2 separate regions of the Homo sapiens genome follow, and region 1 is linked to region 2. The links come from fine-mapping of genetic effects on gene expression. A gene starts in region 2. The other region holds a variant in brackets. All regions are shown on one strand. Distances are between the middles of the regions.

Region 1 (2,902 bases), 25 kb after region 2:
GGGATGTGACAAGGGCAGCAGAGGTAGGAGTGATGTGCTCTGAAGATGAAGGAAGGAGCCACGAGCCAAGGGATGCGGGCAGCTTCTAGAAGGTTAGAAAGGCAGGGAAATAGATTCTGCTCTGGAGACTCCAGAAGGAACACAGCCCTGTGGACATCTTGATTTTAGCTTTATCAAACTTATTTTAGGCTTGTAACCTCAAAAAACTGTAAGACATTAAATATGTGCTGTCTTAAGCCATTATAATTTGTGGTAATTAGTTATAGCGGCCACAGAAAACTAATACAGAGATTGTTTTCTCCATTGACAATGAGGAAGCAGAGAGCAGGTGACCTTTCCAAGTCACTTGGCTGCTAAATACAGAGCCTGTACTGGAGCCCAGTCTCTAGGCTTCCTTTGACCAGGCATGGCCCAAGGCAAACCTGAGTGCAGGGAGTGTGAGGACATGCCTGAAAGTGACCTTTCTCCTGCTAGGCAAGGGCCTGGAGGAGGTGAAACCTGCGTGGTCTTCAATGCCCCTGACATTTGAAAGAAAGTGCCAGCTCCTCAATAAAAACATGCTCGAGGCAGACCTACCCAGGTTGGCACTGGATGAAGACCTCCCTGGTGGGGAGAAAGAAGCAGCTGGATTGCATGATCCCTACCCTGTCCCTCGGATTCACCAAGATGCACATTTCCCTTGAGAGGTTGTAGCCAAGGTGGTCTCAGGGGCACTGGTCACCCCTTAACACTCTGGCCCAGGAGGTGGCACAGTCCTCCCCCTGAAAAGCAGAGCCTGAGCCAAGGCATTCAGATAAGACTCAGGGGAGGCTTGAGGGTGAGGCAGGGGAAGTGCACGCTTTGAGGTGGGTCCTGGACAGTCAGACGTTCAAGCTATGCTCGACTCCTGATTCCATACGGAGGGCGCCATCTGTTTAGGGACCCCTGTTGAAAGATGCACCCCTGCTCCCAAGTCGGGGCCCTCTTCCATCTCCCTAAGGCTAGTCTTCTGAGCTCTGGTTTCCAATAAAGATACAACCTTTCCCCAGGGATTGGAGCTGGGCACCTCCTCTTTGTGGAGACAGAGCTCTCTATCTACAGACATGACCTGACTCATCACTCAGGCCACAGCTGAACCGAGAGAATATAACAGTCCCCCAACATCCACATCACTTCCACACTTCCACTGTTTGGGTAAAGCATTACATTACTCTCTGGAGCCCAGAGTCTTTTGGCTGAAAGACTAATTCACTCCATTATTCATCCTGAGGGGCAAGGGAGACTTGCTATGGGTGCCAAGTGCCCAACACATGCTATTCCAGTCACAACCCGCCCTGCCGAATGCTGGAATGGAGGTGTTGGCCTTATCCCTCTCAGTAGGTGAGCAAACGGAAGCTGAGAGAGGATCAGTGCTTTGCCCAAAGTCGTGCACATTTTATGTGGTTGAGCAAGACTTGAACTGAATTCAGCTCTTTCAACACTGAGTGCGAGGGTTGTTTAAGTAAGGCTGCCCTCATGGGATAAAAGGAGAGTGGGAGGAAAAAGAGAGAGAGCCAATATTGTAAGAAAATTCATGAAACACAGTGGGACAATAGGACAGAACAGTTGAAACTGGGACTGTCCTAGATAGCTGGTATAGATCTTGCCAAGAAAGGAAGTCAGAAGCTAACTATAGACTGAGGACCACGGG[T/G]GTAAGAACACGGTCAGTCCCTGGATTCTGCCACTTCTCCTTGTTGGTAATTTTCCATTCTCCCCACTGCTCCCCTGCAATGACTAGCACATAAACCCTGAAACTGAAAGGGACAGCTAGGAAGCAGATAGCCAGTCTTTGTCCAGTTCTGCAGCTATTTTAGGGAGAGAAAGAAACTCAACAATATGGTGTTTATGAGGAAAGTTTTGAGAAAACGTAAAAATAAGCGGAAAGGAGAGTGAATCTTTGGTGGCTTAGAAGGATAAACTAAAGAGCTCACAGGAGTCTGCCAGGGACTAAGGGCAGCATGTGTTCATTCTTTCAGGAAAGAGTTACTGAGCCCCTATTAGGTGCCAAGTCCTGGGCTAGGGTGGGGAGAGTGAGGAGTGGAACCTCCTTTAGTTAGGACAGTCAGGGAGGCTTCTCCGAGGAGGTGATCTTAAGCAGAAATCTGAGGGATGAGAGGGAGTCAGCTACCTCAAGAAGAGAGAAAATGATCCAGGCAGAGAACACCATATGCAAAGTCCTGGAGGTGAGAAAGAGCTTAGTGTGTTGGAAAAAAAAAAAGAGAAAAGCACAAGCAAGCTGACCAGCTGGCTAGAGTAGTTTGGGGATGTGGGGAGAGACAAGAGGCCCCGGGGAGAGAGGCAGGTCTGTGTCCTGGGGCCTGTGGAAACCACAGAGGGGTTTTGTCCTCTGTGCAATGGGACACCACTGGATGTTTAAGCAGGTAGTCCAGGATAGAGTTTATGTTTTGGAAAGTCACTCTAGTGGCTCTGTAGGGAATAGATTTGTGGTATGGCAAGAGTGGAAGAGGCATGAACATAAGCAGCTGTTAAAGAGGTCCAGGCAAGAGATGCGGTGGCCTGCCCTGGGCTGGGGACGTGGAGGTGGAAAGAAGGGTGGACTATGGACATTCCTTGGAGGGAACATCCGCACACTTACAGATGAGTTGGATGTAAAAGGATGAGGGAATAGAGGGACCAGGAACCACCCAGGGGGTCCTACCTTTAGCAAGGTGGACAAGGTTGTGCTAATTGTTTAATGTGAGGAATTCATGGGGTGGAGATAAGTTTTAGAGTAGGGGGTCTGTCTCAGCCATATTAAAGAACTGTTTATGCCTTATCTGGGTAGAGAGAGCAAGCGGGCTGGTGGATACATGCATCTGGAGCTTGGAGGAGAGGTCTAGGCTGCGGATACAGTCATTGGTGTCAAGATGCTATTTAAAGCCAT
Region 2 (2,902 bases):
TGTTTCTGAGCCCCTTTCTCAAGGCGTGGGGGCTGGACCACTCAGGGAAATGGCTTCTTAGACCTCCAGAGGCCCCTTACTGCTGAGGAACCTGGAACTTTCTTAAGGCAAGATGGTGATAGCGTGTGGCTTGTGCATGTGAGCGTGGGACGGGGGAAATGACTGCCTGGTTCCCTCTACCTGCTGGCCTCAGTTTCTCCATTAGATAAGGTGTTTGGGAAGGGCTGGGTAGCTGAAGGCCAGGATGGGCTTTACCAATGTTCTCTCGGATGTGGATGGGCTGGTCCAGCATGGCCGGCGGGCCAGCCCCTGCAGAACTCACTGCAGACACGCGCAGGAGGAACTTGTCTCCCAGAGCCAGGTTCCGCACAGTCTGCTGGGTCACCATCATGGGCCGGGCACTCACAGGCACCCACTCCGAGGCTGAGGGGATGGAGAGAGTGTGAGGTCTTTGCAATGTGGCCACAGGCGCCCCTCTCCATGGGGCTTCTTTTCCTGCTGGTGATCTGGGGAAATCAGCCTCCCTCTCTGGGCCTCATTTTCCCCTTGTTTGCCTTCCCTGACTTCTTGTCAAATGGCATCAAAGACACCTGATGTTAGAGCCCTGAAATTGTGGCTAGAGATGAGGTTGTTGAAGCCCAGAGAGGGTTGGACACATTTGCAAAGTCACACAGCAAGGTAGGGGCAGAGGCAGAGGCCAGGCTGGACTTGGGCCATGGAGGGGGACAGTGGCAGCAGGGATGTGGCCCCCACACCCCCACCCCATTCCCGCTTTCTCCTCACTGTCTCTTACGCTAACATTCCCCTCTCCAGCTCCTCCCTTTCCACTTCCTACAGTTCGGGGTCCTCTGAGACTTAGCACTTCCTTCCCTTCTCACCAAAGGAGAACCCAGTGTCCCCTTACCCTTCCCTTACTCAGAAGCTCCTTGGAGCTGAGGACAAGGGAGCCCCTCAACCCACCCACCTACCCTTTCTTGCTCTCCTGCTGGTGGAGCAAGAAAGGGCAGGTGGGTGGGTTGAGGAGCCTACTGCTCGCATCCCCTCCTTCTGTATCTCTCCCAGACTGACCAACCACAGGGCCTGTGCACTTGTCCCTGCAGCCCTCCATGACAACCTCCCCTGGGTGTATGCAAGACTTAGCCCAGCACTCACCTCCCTCTCTGCAGAGCTCCAGCACATAGCCCTGGAGGCCCAGCCTCCCCAGCCTCTCTGGGGGCTCCCAGCTCACAGTCACAGAGCTGCTGCTCACATCATCCAGGGTCAGCAGCAGTGGGGCACTGGGGACATCTGGGGAGATGAAGAGGTTCATGGCCAAGAGCTCCCCTCCACCCCTGACATGCCTGCCTCCCTCCTCCCCCTGCCCCACCTTCAGTCACCTTCACTTGGGGGTGCAGGCTTAGTGGCTGTGGAGGCTGTAGGGGCCTGTGGGGCAGGGGCCTGCGGCTTGGGCACCTGCTCTTCTCTGGTGGACTCTGATACTGCCACTTCTCCGGGAGGCTCTGCTGTGGGCACCTTGGCAGATTCAGATGCGGTCTCCTCTGGACTGCAGGCAGGGCCCTCGGAGGTGTTTTTTTCCATCATTGCTGGACTGGCTGGGGGGCCAGGGTGGAGTGTGCAGGGGTCAGCCGTTGGGGGGCCTGGGCCTCTAGGGTGCCTGGGACACCTAGGTCCAGGCTTATATAGTCAGGGGCTGCCCCACCCCCAGCAAACGATTCCCAGCTGTGGGGTCAGGTCAAGCAGGAGGACTGGAGGGTGGAGAGGCGCCCAGGCCAGGAATAGCTCTGGGGGAGGAACCACAAGGGCCCCTTGAGGAGTCACTTCCTCATCCATCTCCCCGACTGGCCTTCAACAGCCAGGGTGCTGGTGCCCAGCTGGGGGAGGGCGCAGATGGGTGAGATGGGACATCGAGCAGGCCGCGTGCCAGGTGTCAGGGCAATAGGAGGAAGAACTTCTATCTGGAGAATGAGCCCAGCTCAGGCTCTGTGTGTCTGGCGTCTATGGGGCCACTTGTTCCCAGAGCTTCTCAGACTGGGTGCTGGGGCCCTGACAGTTTGGGACAATCGTCCTTGTGAGCACTCCCAGCTTTGCCTCTGGGGTCCACATTCCCTGGGCTCCCACAGTTCCCAGGGACTCTCGCCTGTGCTGTATGAGGCTGAGGGCCCTAGAGAGGGAGGGAATTGAGATGCTGAGGGTGGAGCTGCTCAGAGGATGGTCCTCCAGCATTGGAACCCCAGGAAGGGGCACTAAGTCTCCTGGCTCCTGTCTCAGTTGGGCGGCTGGTAAGGAGCTCGTCTCCCCTGATGCCTGCTGTGGGCCTCAGTTTTCCACCTGTTACAGAGAACCCCTCGCCCTTCGGGATGGGTTGCAGTTGTAGGCAGATCTGGAAGATGCCCTAGTGGAGGAGAGCACTCTGAAGCTTCTAGACTCTTCCAAGCAGGCTGTGGGCATGGGCTTTCTCAGTGTGCCAAAGGAGGCAGATATGGCCAGATTTCTAGTCATTGATTCATTTGTTCGATAAAATGTTAAGACTGGGAATCACTGGAAAGCCAGAAAATGCCATGTGTCAGGAAGGAGGGAGAACATTAAGAACTTTTATTGCTGGTATTGGAGCAGTCACTCTGGAAAATGTGAGAGTTTTACTAGTGCCTAGTAAAATGGATGAGGTGCCTACTCCGTGACCCAGCCGTGCCGCTCATATAACACCCACACATGCCCCAGGAGACATGGAGAAGAAGGTTCATGGCAATGTTATTTGTAATTGTTGAAATGTGGGGGAAAACAGCTGTCCCTCAACAGTGGGATGGATAAATAACTGTGGAGTGTTTATGCAACTGTAAAGCAAAATATGGGGTCAAATGAGCAACTTCAGCTACTCACAGACCCAGTGATGAGCAGAAGAGCA

Which allele goes with the higher level. Positions count from the first base shown, and alleles are read on the strand shown. Sizes are in standard deviations (SD) of each study's normalised expression.
With allele T in place of G in region 1, the expression in spleen of the gene that starts at base 1,652 in region 2 is lower (moderate effect, 0.73 SD a copy in GTEx).

The links. PIP is the estimated chance that this variant, and not a neighbour inherited with it, causes the effect.
Region 1: its variant is fine-mapped to the expression of MYBPH in spleen (GTEx, PIP above 0.99).

What each region holds. Positions count from the first base shown.
Region 1 is chr1:203,198,795-203,201,696 of GRCh38, forward strand. No RefSeq gene overlaps it. Among named protein-coding and RNA genes, the nearest start is that of CHI3L1, 14 kb to the left of the region's middle. The variant T/G (reference allele first, on the strand shown) is at 1,670.
Region 2 is chr1:203,174,175-203,177,076 of GRCh38, forward strand. MYBPH (myosin binding protein H) reads right to left here and starts at 1,652. Exons shown (of 11, transcript NM_004997.3): 1 at 1,377-1,652; 2 at 1,153-1,287; 3 at 256-423. The coding sequence starts at 1,581. RefSeq lists an enhancer at 1-316.